4 linked regions of the Homo sapiens genome follow. The protein of the gene in region 3 interacts with the protein of the main gene of each other region in a biochemical or structural test. Each region holds a gene or a part of one and is shown on either strand. Other genes may lie near its edges. The genes, in order: PROC, ACR, SERPINA5 and KLKB1.

Evidence for each region.
Region 1: the proteins of SERPINA5 (region 3) and PROC form a complex in vitro, tested with the Homo sapiens proteins (one study listed by BioGRID).
Region 2: the proteins of SERPINA5 (region 3) and ACR form a complex in vitro, tested with the Homo sapiens proteins (one study listed by BioGRID).
Region 4: the proteins of SERPINA5 (region 3) and KLKB1 form a complex in vitro, tested with the Homo sapiens proteins (one study listed by BioGRID).

The regions. Positions count from the first base shown.
Region 1 is NC_000002.12:127,421,427-127,425,019, reverse strand, and holds part of PROC (vitamin K-dependent protein C isoform 10 preproprotein), read right to left. Parts: coding exon 3,571-3,593; intron 2,104-3,570; coding exon 2,079-2,103; coding exon of another isoform or gene 1,987-2,078; coding exon 1,849-1,986; coding exon of another isoform or gene 1,747-1,848; coding exon 1,612-1,746; intron 1,484-1,611; exon of another isoform or gene 1,402-1,483; intron 321-1,401; exon of another isoform or gene 1-320. UniProt on the Homo sapiens protein: Protein C is a vitamin K-dependent serine protease that regulates blood coagulation by inactivating factors Va and VIIIa in the presence of calcium ions and phospholipids. Exerts a protective effect on the endothelial cell barrier function.
Region 2 is NC_000022.11:50,743,448-50,745,858, forward strand, and holds the end of ACR (acrosin precursor), read left to right. Parts: intron 1-613; coding exon 614-759; intron 760-1,205; coding exon 1,206-1,760; 3' UTR 1,761-1,892; downstream 1,893-2,411. UniProt on the Homo sapiens protein: Acrosin is the major protease of mammalian spermatozoa. It is a serine protease of trypsin-like cleavage specificity, it is synthesized in a zymogen form, proacrosin and stored in the acrosome.
Region 3 is NC_000014.9:94,584,426-94,587,925, reverse strand, and holds part of SERPINA5 (plasma serine protease inhibitor preproprotein), read right to left. Parts: intron 581-3,500; 5' UTR 564-580; coding exon 1-563. UniProt on the Homo sapiens protein: Heparin-dependent serine protease inhibitor acting in body fluids and secretions. Inactivates serine proteases by binding irreversibly to their serine activation site. Involved in the regulation of intravascular and extravascular proteolytic activities.
Region 4 is NC_000004.12:186,240,978-186,244,570, reverse strand, and holds part of KLKB1 (plasma kallikrein isoform 1 preproprotein), read right to left. Parts: intron 1-3,593. UniProt on the Homo sapiens protein: Participates in the surface-dependent activation of blood coagulation. Activates, in a reciprocal reaction, coagulation factor XII/F12 after binding to negatively charged surfaces.

The sequences.
Region 1 (3,593 bases), on a different chromosome or scaffold from region 3:
GCTTCAGGAAGGAGTGGTGCTCTTAGCTGACCACAGGGAGTCATGCAAATGTCCACAGCCTGCACAGGCACCAGCTCCCCTGCCCCACCCTGCTCTGAGGGGCCGAACACCATGGGTGAGCGTCTTCCATCCTCCAAGAGCTTGGAGGAGTCCTCTTAGAAAGCAGCCTAAAAGGAAAGCCCTCACGATCTGGGGTTCTGCCAATGACAGGGCCTTCCCAAGGCCTTGCAGGAAACCCACAGGCCAACAGGCCCACCAGGCATTTCTTTGCAGCTTCCTGGAAATATCTAATTATTTCAAAATAAAAAGTTAAATTTTTAGATCTTTTTTTACTTTTTTTAAAAATAGAGACAGGGTCTCACTGTGTTGCCCAGGCTAGTCTCAAACTCCCAAGCTCAAGCAATCCTCCCACCTCAGCCTCTCAAAGTGCTGGAATTATTGGTCTGAGCTACTGAGCCTGGCCAAAAATTTTTTTCTGCAGAAGAATTGAATTATAAAGTTGTAGAAAGTTCCCTGAAAGAGGCTGGGCGCGGTGGCTCACGCCTGTAATCCCAGCACTTTAGGAGGCCAAGGCAGGTGGATCACCTGAGGTCAGGAGTTCAAGACCAGCTTGACCAACACGGAGAAACCCCTTCTCTACTAAAAACACAAAATTAGCTGGGCGTGGTGGCGCATGCCTGTAATCCCAGCTACTCGGGAGGCTGCGGCAGGAGAATCGCTTGAATCCAGGAGGCGGAGGTTGTGGTGAGCTGAGATCACGTCATTGCACTCCAGCCTGGGACAACAAGAGTGAAACTCCATCTCAAAAAAAAAGAAAAAAAAGAAAGTTCCCTGAAAGAAAACACAAAGTCAAAGAGATGGGAAATAGAAGAGACAATAAAACTAGAGGAAAGAGGTCTGAATAATGGGAGGTCCAGAAAGAGAAAATAGAGGAAGTAAAGGGGAGATTGTAGAAGAAATAAGTGATAAATGTCCCTAGAGGCAGAAGATAGGAATTTCCACATTAAAAGGGTCCACCTTTTAATGAAAATGAATGAAAAAAGGACCCATGCCAAGGAACAGCATGCTGAAATGTAAAAGTTGTAAAACTCTGATTTTTAAAGTTTCATACATATATAAATTTGATTAAAATGCATAAAAAGGAAAATATAGAAGAAGGCAGAATCGGGATTCTGTTCTCTCCTCAAGGAAGCAAGGGGGTAAAGAGGGAAATGCGATGCACGCCGGACAACGTCAGAGAAAAACGCAGCCAGGCTACATGGAGGAGGACGCTGCACGCCTCGCCCCAGATACGCTCAGACTGGGGAGCGGAGCCACCACTGGGCTTGCGCTCCAGGAGGTGGCCCCAGGTGCGCAGGGGGCGCCCGGAGGAAGGCGGGGACGCCAGGAAGAAAGGAAGCAGGGAAAGCGGAGGGCGCGCCCAGCTCCCGGGCTGATTGCGCTAACAGTGGCCCCGGTGTTGGGGCGCGTCTGCCGCTGCCCCAAGGCTCAACTCTGTTCCTCGCTCCCTCCCTAGAAACCCTCCTGAGCCCCCCGCGCCGCGCCCCGTCAGGGGGCCTGCCCACCCTGCACCCAGCGTGATTCCTGGGCGATGTATTGGGGGCTTCTCACCTGCGGGGTGACACTGCAGGAGGTCGTCCCCCAGCTTGTAGCCAGGCGCACAGCTACAGCGCCGCCAGCCCACCTCCTCTAGGCAGTAATGCGTGCAGCCGCCGTTGTCCAGCGAGCAATTGAGGAAGCTCACCTCTGCGGGCAGGGGAGGGCGCGGGCAGCTGGTGCTGGTGCCGCGCCCCCAACCCGGCCCCAGCCCCGCCCCGCCGCCCGCCAGCATCCACCTCTCCCCCTCACCGCGCTGGCAGAAGCGGCCCTCCCAGCCGCTGCGGCAGTCGCAGCTGAAGCTGCCGATGCCGTCGATGCACGTGCCGTGCCCGCAGCACAGGCTGGCGCACGGGTGCTCCAAGGGCAAGACCAAGCACTGGTCACCGTCTGCGACACAAGGCGGGGTAGGGGGTCAGCGGCCAGAGATCCCGAGGGGCGCGGGCGCCGGTAGTCCAGCCGGGGATCTAGAACGCACTCACCGACGTGCTTGGACCAGAAGGCCAGCTGCGGAGAGAGCGGGCAGCGTCAGGCTCCTGCAGCCGGTGTGCGGAGGGGGCGCGCCCGGGTGGGGCAGGGCAGCGGGTGAGCGGGCAGGGGAGGGGAGGGCTTCCAGACAAACAGGGATCGACGCCCGATGGTCGTTGGCTGCTAGGAGCTGGTGCTCCCTGCCCCTCCCCCGCCCTCCAGCGCCACCCGCCCGCGCCCAGCCTCCATCCCACGTCCCTGGAGCAACACCCTCTCCCCATGCAGCTGCAGTGCTGCTCTCGCGACTGTCTGCTCCCACAGCAGCCTCTGGCATGCAAGGGACCCGAATCCCTCACCAAGTCACTCGGCCTCCTTCCAGTCCCATCACTCCCTCTGCCTGCGGGCTTTGGGGGACCCCTGAGCATCGCGCCTTTCCCTAAGCCAGTGTTTTTCAGAGTTGGGAGGATGGGGGCAGAGGGTCTGCGTTCCTAACCAGGTACCAGGGTTGCTGCTGCGGCGGCTGCTGCTGGTCCAGGACCACCCAGCCCACGTTGAGACCCACGGCCTGTGCCTGATGCCTGCTCCATCAGAGAGGCCAGCCAAGGCCTGCTGGGGCTGAGAGACCATGGGTGAGGTGGGAGCACGGTGGGGACTTGATGTGATCAGATATGTGCCTGCAGAAAGTCACTGTGGCGTCTGCCAGGGAGGCCACTGGGGAAAGAGGTGGTGGGGATGGAGGTCCAGATGGGGGTCCAGTCAAGGAGGTGGAGGCTGAGGGCAAGAGAGGGTGCAGGCCAGAGGGTCTCCTGCCCTGAAAGCCTCCACTGGAAAGCATCCCTGGATGCCTTGGAAGGGGGCCCAGGCCGTGCACAATTTTCAGGTCCTAGTGGCTGAAGCGATCCCCAGGGACAGAGCGGGTCTGAGCCTTGTCTCAGGAAGCCAGCCCCGTTACCAAGCTCACCCTACTACCTAGGGCCACGTCCACAGGACTCTGGGGGCTCCAAAGGACTCTGACCCTTAGACAAATAGGACACAGACCCTGTCTTCCGACCCCCTGAACAATCAGATTTTCTCCCTTTGATGTGAGGCACAGAGTGAGCGATTTTATGTGGACAGAAGTGAGTTTCGGTCACACACACACCCTGATCAGCAGAGGCATGGGTGGAAGCAGGGTGGTCTTTAGGTCCCCTCTTTGTGAGGTGGGACGGGGAGGCAGTGGTGCTCAGCAGTGGCTGGAGGGTGGACTGAACCACCTACACTGTGGCTGGTGGGAGTCCCCACCTAGGGTCACCCCACACTCTTTCCTGGAGCTTCTTCCTGAATTCTGTTTCTTGCAGTCACATGTGCCTGGCCGACATCATAGGGCCAGCATCCTAATCGCTCCACTCAGCCACCCCCACAACTCCTAAGAGGGCCTCAGCATTGAGTCCCCACCTGCTCCTCGAGGCCCCTGCTGGTTACCAGCTCGCCCCTGAGCCTCATCCTCTGGACCCATGGTGGCCTTACTGTGTCATCCACATTTTGGAAAA
Region 2 (2,411 bases), on a different chromosome or scaffold from region 3:
GAACAGATATGCAGCATATGGGGAGGGACTTATTGACCCAGCTGCAGCAGATCCCGTCCGCAGCTGAGCCGAGGAGTTCTGAAGAGGGACAAGAAGCAGGGGGAGTGGCTTACAGCCAGACTGTGGGAGTGGACAGTGTGTCTCAGACTGGAGTCTGGAGAGGAGCAGTCCTGAGGCCAGGCTGCAGCCCCACCACCTCTCTACTGTGACCTGGGTGGGCGGTGCTCCAGCCTTCTGATCCAAAATGGGAATAACGGGACCATGTGACTCAGGGAGTGCTTGGTGCACACTAGGTGTTATTGGTAATACTGCAACTAACCTCCATAATCCATCGTTAATACGCACACCCACCCCCCATCCACCTGTCCACGGGCCTCCACCCTTCCTTCCTCTCTTCCTCTCTCCTCTGGCCTTGATTTGGATAACATTTCCCCACCTCCTCCCACCACCTCTAGTCTGCTCTTTCTGGTGTATAAGGAGGGGTCGGGGCATCGACTGGATGGGTCTGAGGTTTAACTGGAGCATCACAGAGGATGGGGTTCGGTGGGGCAAGGAGGCAGGGCTTTTGTCCGTGTCTCCCGTGATCACTGACCACCGAGTGGTCTGACTATAGCCCCCAGGCCATCATCTATACTGATGGAGGCACGTGTGGATCTCATCGACCTGGACTTGTGTAACTCGACCCAGTGGTACAATGGGCGCGTTCAGCCAACCAATGTGTGCGCGGGGTATCCTGTAGGCAAGATCGACACCTGCCAGGTAACCTTCCTTCTGGCTTCTGGGCCCCTGGGTCCCTCCAGGACTCTCCCGGCCCCTGAGAACATCCTCCTTTTGGATCCCCAAGCTCCACTATCTCCACTGCTCTGCCCAGGGCCCTTCTCTAGTGACTGCTTCCCCGGTCCCTTTTCTAGCACCTACTCTCACAGTGGGGATGAGCGGTGACAGCCACCGGCTGCCCCTGCCATGTGCCCCTGTGGACACGTGGGTTTGCTCATCTCACTGCAAGGAAAGCCCTGACAATTCACACCCTCCTCACATCCCAAATGAAGCCCCTGACACCCCCTCAAACTTTACTACAACCACTTGTGTTTACAGCAGCAGGAGACCATGTCACTGTGGAAATTGTCCTCCCAGAGCCTTCCGACCCCTCTGGGCAGGGGAAGAGTGGCTCAGGCAGATAGTGACCTCTGTGTCCTTCTGGACAGGGAGACAGCGGCGGGCCTCTCATGTGCAAAGACAGCAAGGAAAGCGCCTATGTGGTCGTGGGAATCACAAGCTGGGGGGTAGGCTGTGCCCGTGCCAAGCGCCCCGGAATCTACACGGCCACCTGGCCCTATCTGAACTGGATCGCCTCCAAGATTGGTTCTAACGCTTTGCGTATGATTCAATCGGCCACCCCTCCACCTCCCACCACTCGACCGCCCCCGATTCGACCCCCCTTCTCCCACCCTATCTCTGCTCACCTTCCTTGGTATTTCCAACCGCCCCCTCGACCACTTCCACCCCGACCACCGGCAGCCCAGCCCCGACCCCCACCTTCACCCCCGCCCCCACCCCCACCTCCAGCCTCACCTTTACCCCCACCCCCACCCCCACCCCCACCTACACCCTCATCTACCACAAAACTTCCCCAAGGACTTTCTTTTGCCAAGCGCCTACAGCAGCTCATAGAGGTCTTGAAGGGGAAGACCTATTCCGACGGAAAGAACCATTATGACATGGAGACCACAGAGCTCCCAGAACTGACCTCGACCTCCTGATCTGACCTGGTTCTCAACAGACCCAGTGAGCCCTTCACTCCTGAGAAAAAGGAAAGATGAAATAAATAAATAAACATATATATATAGATATACACACACACATATCTGTATGTATACATGCATATACATCAAGAGATGCTTTCTGGACTTCTTCCTATCCCCCCTCCCAACCCAAATTTCCCCTATAAAATCTACCCTCTCTCCTTCACCCTACAATAAGGCGGAATTGCTTGTACATTAGTGCCAATCGTGTTTTTTAAAATCTTGATTTTTAATGCTGGAATAAGGTGACCTGGGGCCGTAGACCGGGGATGGTCTTTATTTCACACTTAGGGAGAAACGACAAATGGTGAAAATAAAAGAGCCATCTCTGCATGTGCAAGTCAAAGGGGGTGGACCCCCAAAGCAGCAGCTGTGAGTGAGCTGACGGGGAAAGAGGGGGTGTGGGTCCAAGTCTTCTATCAGGAGGCTGGTGGTGTTGACACCCACAGAGAAGATTCTGCATGAAGGTTGAACTCCCCAGAACACAAAGGCTAAGGAGGCCACTAGGCCACCAAAACAAGTGTCTACTACCAAACACAATTTTGCTTGTGGCTTGTTAGTGTCCAGTTGACACCAACAAGCCTGTTCATTACTTGCCTGTAGTTAAAT
Region 3 (3,500 bases):
AGCAAGTCCACAATCTTGCCCTTCGTTTGCTTTGCCACATAATCATTGATCTGCTTCATGGCCCCTGCAGAGTCCCTAAAGTTGGTAGGGAAAGTGTCTGCCAGGTACAGCGTCTTCATGGCACTTACGAAGGTGTCCTGCAGGTCTACCACCAGGTCGGTGAAAAGGGCATTGCCGAGGCTCAGCTGGAAGCCATCTCTGGGCTGGTTGAGTTCCTGAAGGAGCTGCTGAAAGCCTCTGTGCAGCTCCTTCTCTGAGCTTTTCTGGAGGTTGAGGCCCAGGCCCTCCAGGATCTGCATCTTTGTGCTGGACCCAGCCCCCAGGGAGAGCATGGCCAGGCTCATGGAGATGCTCACAGGGGAGAAGAAGATGCTCTGGCTGGGGGCAGCGGAAGCCAAGGCCCTGTAGAGGTCAAAGGTAAAGTCCCTTCTGCTGCTGGGGGCCACCGTGGCACCTACATGGAGGTCCTCGACTCTCTTCTTCATCTCCCGGGGGTGGTGGCGGTGAAGGGAGGCCCCCTGAGGGCTGAGAAGCACCAGGCACAAGAGGAGGAAGAGCTGCATGGTGGCTGTTCTTTGTTCTGAAAGGGAAAGAAGGTGTCCTCAGAGAGGGGTGGAGCTGGTCCAGGTGCTGACTTTCCAGAGATGTCCCCACCCAACACTCAATGGGTATGTTTGGTCCATTCAGCTTCAAAGAGAAGGGATGGCACCCGCAAGACTGGGCATGAGGGTTTACACAGGGTGGCAGTGGCTCGAGGACAAGATTTAGGGATGACGGGGAGAGGAAGGAGGGAGAGGAGGTGCAGACCCAAGGCAGGGGTCTGGCTGCCAGGGCAGGAATCCTGTCTACCCATCCACATCAAGGGACACATTTTGGAGGATGGGATATGGAGGGAGAGGGTTCCCTCTGCTCTGCTCTGTCTCATCAGCATCTCGAGGTTACCAGGGAACTAAGCTGCTTCCATGTGAGCTTCTGGCCTTCACTCTGGTGTCCTGGTTTGGCACATGGCAGGGCGCTGTGGTCCTTCTATGAACTCAGACCAGCTACATGCCTGGGACCATCAGCACTGCTGGCCTTGCCCTGTTCATTCAGCAAACGCTGAGTGAGTGTCCACCCTGGGGTAGGCAGAATACCAGTATGCAAACTGTCCCCTTCTCCTTCCCCCAGGGGCTGCTCCATGCCACCCTTGTCCCACAGAGAGACATCTTCCCCTCCTAAAGGAATTCTGCCTGAACCTCTTCATGTGGACATCCCCACCGTCCTCCTGTTCTGGCTGAATTGTGCCCCCAAAATGCATATGCTGAAGTCCTTACCTTCAATACCCCAGAATGTGACTATATCTGGAGATAGGGCTTTTAAAGAGGGGACTGAGTTAGAATGAGGTCACTAGAGTGGGCCCCAACCCAATATGACTACGTCCTTACACAAAAATTAAAAAGAGGAGATCAGGATAGAGACATGCACAGAGGGAAGACCAGGTGAAGACAGGGAGAAGGCAGCCACCTGTGAGCCAAGGAGAGGGGCCTTGGAAGGAACAAATCCTGCTGGTGCCTTAATCTCAGACTTCCAGCTTCCAGAGTTGTAAAGAAAGAAATTTCTGTTGTTGAAGCCCCCTAGCCCCTGGGACTTTGTGACAGCAGCCCATGCAGGCAAAGACATCTTTTCATCTTCCAGATGAGGAGGCACTCATCTTTGTCTCTAGCTCTTCTCAGGGAGGCCTTTGTGGGGTCTCCCATCACTCCTGACGTGGCCTTGGCCTTCAGTCCTCCTCTTCCTCCCTCCACTTCACCCAAGAGCCGTTCCTGTGCCCATGCCTCCCCATCTGGCTACGGGTAGAAGTCTTGCCTCCTCCCTCTGCAGTAGGAAACAGCTCAGGCTCTGAAGCCACTGCCTGGGTTCAAATCTCAGCCCTGCTGTGTCCTTGTAGTGTGATTTTGGGCAAGTCAGTTACACCTTGAGCCACTGCTCCATAACTGTAAGATAGTGATAATAACAGCACCTACACCATGGGGTGCTTGGGGGCACGTGCTATGGAAGTGTGAGCAGTAGGCATGGCAGTTTCTGGCAAAAGCCCCATCTGAGGCCTCCATATTCTCAACTGTACCATAGGGTACATGCTTTACACACACACACACACACACACACACACACACACACACACGTGTGAGCCTGACAGCACCCAGGCTGGCTAATTACCAGGTGCAGAGGGCCTGCCTGGCTTCTGATGTGAGCTTTGCCCTGTGTGTCGCCTTGGAGGGAATCCCTTTCTGCTGGGCTCTCTCCATGGGCACAATGTCATCAGTGACCCCAGATCCCCACCAGGCAGGGGCAGCCTGTCACAGCATCCCGTGACCCAATTAAAACCAAACTCCAAAGGGCCCCAAACAGGTGGGTGGGAAATCCCTTGCAGAGTGGCCGTGGGGCTCAGCAGTGGAGAGAGAATGGTCTCAGGAATTGGGCAGGCTTGGACTGCAGGCCTGTCTTTAAGTGAAGTTGAATAGCTCCAGCAGGTCACCCTTGCCAGCCCAGCCTCCAAATTGTGTCCTGAGCTCCTTCCGAGAAGGAGCCTCATGTAGAAGTTTCTGCCTGCAGAATCGAACCTGGCACCAAACCCAGCAGCCACAGCAGTTGGGCGCATTGCCCGCACCCTCTTTCAGGCACTGTGCCAACTCCTTCAGCCCTGCACCACCCAAAAAGGTACATCTTGCTGCTAGCTCTATTTTACAGATGGGTAATCCGAGGTTCAGAGAGATGGAGTCGCTTGCTAACACTGGCAAAGCTTGGACTCAGACTCGGTTATCACTCTGACTCTGCAGAGTCCTGCCTCCTCTGCAGAGTCCTGCCTCCTCTTTTCCTGGCTGCATCTTCCTGATTTTGAAATCCCTGACTTAGTAGCCACCAACAATAGCCCTAATCTGCAGATAATGAGTGAGCAGAGTCTGGGCTTCCCCCCACTGACACTCCCTACCTGTTCCCACCATGGCACTTGCCTGGAGAGCTTTGAAGGACATAGGTGGGTGCTTTAATCTCCGGCTTCTCTAAATGAGTCTATTTTACAGCACAATATGGTCCCTCCTGCCAAGGGTTGGAACCAGCCATGTATGGAGATGCTTCTAAAGAAACAATGTGGCTCAACCCCCCACAGGGTCACACTGAGCTGATAATTTCGAGAACAGCTTCAGAAGCAGGGGAGTTTCCTTATTGGATACAGCCCAGGGGCAGCTGACCAGAGAGTCTCAGTGAGGCCCTGGCCTCCATTCTCCCATCTATTCAGCTACTAGGTCACCCTGGGCAAGCCTCACCCCCTCTGGGCCTCAGTTTCTTCATCTGCAGTCTGCCATGTGTTGTGGACACCCCCTCAAGACCCCGCCCCCTGCCAAGCACTAGAGATCCGATGGGGAGGAGCTGCTTCTCCGGGTGTGCACTGAGTCTCCCCCAGGATCTGTTTGGAGAGGGCCCCAGGTTCACTTAGGCTCTCCTGGGCTACATGTTTGAGACCC
Region 4 (3,593 bases), on a different chromosome or scaffold from region 3:
GCACCCTTCATCCCAGCCTCTCTTCGCTTTCACTTGGACTGACCCTGACACCCGTCAGCCTCAGCAACTTACTTGGGCTGTACTGCCACAAGGCTTCGAGGACAGCCCCCATTACTTCAGTCAAGCCCAAATTTCTTCCTCATCCATTACCTATCTCGGCATAATTCTTCATGAAAACACATGTGCTCTCCCTGCTGATTGTGTCTGGCTCATCTCCCAAACCCCAACCCCTTCTACAAAACAACTCCTTTTCTTCCTAGGTATGGTTAAGTACTTCCGCCTTTGGATACTAAGTTTTACCATCCTGACTAAACCATTATATAAACTCACAAAAGCAAAGCTAGCTGACCCCAAAGATCCTAAATCCTTTAGCCACTCCTCTTGCCATTCCTTAAAAACAGCCCTAGAAACTGCTCCCACACTAGCTCTCCCTAACTCATCCCAACCCTTTTCATTACACACAGCCGAAGTGCAGGGCTGCGCAGTCAAAATTCTTACACAAGAGCCAGGACCACGCCCTGTAGCCTTTCTGTTCAAACAACTTGACCTTACTGTTTTAGGCTGGCCCCCACCCCCATGACTGTATCTCTCTGATCCACCTGACATCCACTCCATTTCCCCATATTTCCTTCTTTCCTGTTCCTTACCCTGATCACACTTGGTTTATTGATGGCAGTTCCACCAGGCCTAATCACCACTCACCAGCAAAGGCAGGCTATGCTGTAGTATCTTCCACATCTATCACTGAGGCTACTGCTCTGCCCCGCTCCACTACCTCTCAGCAAGCTGAACTCATTGCCTTAACTCAGGCCCTCACTCTTGCAAAGGGACTACGTGTCAATATTTATACTGACTCTAAATATGCCTTCCATATTCTGCACCACCATGCGGTTATATGGGCTGAAGGAGGTTTCCTCACTACACAAGGGTTCTCCATCTTAATGCCTCTTTAATAAAAACTCCTCTCAAGGCCACTTTACTTCCAAAGGAAGCTGAAGCCATTCACTGCAAGGGCCACCAAAAGGCATCAGATCCCACTGCTCAGGACAATGCCTATGCTGATAAGGTAGCTAAAAAAGCAGCGAGCATTCCAACTTCTATCCCTCACAGCCAGTTTTTTTCTTCCTCATCTGTCACTCCCATCTACTCCCCCATTGAAACTTCCACCTATCAATCTCTTCCCACACAAGGCAAATAATTCTTGGACCAAGGAAAATATCTCCTCCAGCCTCACAGGCCCATTCTATTCTGTCATCATTTCATAAACTCTTCCATGTAAGTTACAAGCCACTAACCCACCTCTTAAAACCTCACTTTTCCTTTCCGTCGTAAAAATCTATCCTCAAAAAATAACTGCTCAGTGTTCCATCTGCTACTCCACTCCTCCTCAGGGATTGCTCAGGCCCCCTCCCTTCCCTACACATCAAGCTCGGGGATTTGCCCCCGCCCAGGACTGGCAGATTGACTTTACTCACATACCCGGAGTCAGGAAACTAAAATACCTCTTGGTCTGGGTAGACACTTTCACTGGATGGGTAGAGGCCTTTCCCACAGGGTCTGAGAAGGCCACCGTGGTCATTTCTTCCCTTCTGTCAGACATAATTCCTCAGTTTGGCCTTTCCATCTCTATACAATCCGATAACAGACCGGCCTTTATTAGTCAAATCACCCAAGCAGTTTCTCAGGCTCTTGGTATTCAGTAAAACCTTCATACCCCTCACCATCCTCAATCTTCAGGAAAGGTAGAACAGACTAATGGTCTTTTAAAAACACACCTCACCAAGCTCAGCCTCCAACTTAAAAAGGAGGACTCTGTCAAGGATAGAGCCCAAAAACTCACCAACCAAGCAAGTAATTACACTGAACCCCCTTAGGCACTCTCTAATTAGATGTCCTGGGTCCTCCCAATTCTTAGTCCTTTAACACCTGTTTTTCTCCTTCTCTTATTCAGACCTTGTGTCTTCCATTTAGTTTCTCATTTCACACAAAACCATATCCAGGCCATCACCAATCATTCTATATGACAAATGCTGCTTCTAACAACCCCACAATATCACCCCTTACCATAAAATATTCCTTCAGCTTCATCTCTCCCACTGTAGGTTCCCACGCCGCCCCTAATCCCGCTCGAAGCAGCCCTGAGAAACATCGCCCATTATCTCTCCATACCACCCCCAAAAACTTTCGCCACCCCAACACTTTACCACTATTTCGTTTTCTTTTTCTTATTAATATAAGAAGACAGGAATGTCAGGCCTCTGGGCCCAGGCCTGCACGTATACATCTAGATGACCTGAAGTAACTGAAGAAAGACAAAAGAAGTGAAAATGGCCGGTTCCTGCCTTAACTGATGACGTTACCTTGTGAAATTCCTTCTCCTGGCTCAGAAGCTCCCCCACTGAGCACCTTGTGACCCCCCACCGCTGCCCGCCAGAGAACAACCCCCTTTGACTGTAATTTTCCACTACCTACCCAAATCCTATAAAACGTCCCCACCCCATCTCCCTTCACTGACTCTCTTTTCGGACTCAGCCTGCCTGCACCCAGGTGATTAAAAAGCTTTCTTGCTCACACAAAGCCTGTTTAGTGGTCTCTTCACACGGACGCACATGACATTAAATATATGCAATACTTCAGCCCAATGTCCTAACCTGTTAAAATTGTTTTTACTTTGCTTTTCCTATCTAATATGTTGGGCACTATTTATAGATATTTTGGCCAAGCAACCAGTTGATTTCTAGGACATTCTCTATTTCAAGTATGCCATCTGGTTAGCCTCCGAACAGAAACCATGATGTTGCTTCCCCTAATTGCAATTTTATCAACCAGCTTCGTTTATCAGACTTTCTTCCCCAGAGGTGATAAAAATAAAAAAACCTTTTTTTTCCAATTTATGTTTTCCTCCTTTTGGCTTGAAAATATGTGTACCATCTCAATTGATAAATTAATAAGTCACATGGTAGGAATTTTCCATGTCAGAGTTGCAAATGGTTTTGTTAAATTAACTGAGGAAACGTGGTTAGCCTGACATCTCTCAAGATCTATGCAGGAAGATGGACCACAAGAGAAGGAAATCTGTAAATATAATGAATTCATATGTGTTGAGAGGCAGGAGGCTTTAAAACACCATTAAATCCATTAAAAAAACAAAAGGTGGAGTGAGCACTGTGAAATGTGTGTGACCCAAGGGTCGAGTTCTGGTTCAGCTCATCAGCTGTGTTGCCCCCGGAGCACCTTCACTTCTACCCTCCTTCCAGGAGCCTTAGGGGTTTTGTTTGTAAAATTAGGAAAATCCTTGGTGAAACCAAGGACAAATCTGTAGTGATAACTACAGATCATCCCTAACTTATGAATCTCATTTGGGCAGTTAGGCCAGGAGACAGCCCTACTCTAGGTTTAGGAGGCATGTGGCTACTGGGTGTTCCCTGAGGAACGGGGACCACGTACTCAGTGAAAAGCCACGCCCTTAGCAGCTCAAAACACCACCTGAAACAGCCATATTTTTATCAGTCTGTAAAGGCCATTTGATCCGATTAAATCACATGTGAACTCACTGCAATTTAACAAGAAAGCAAGTACACAGATGAGCCATC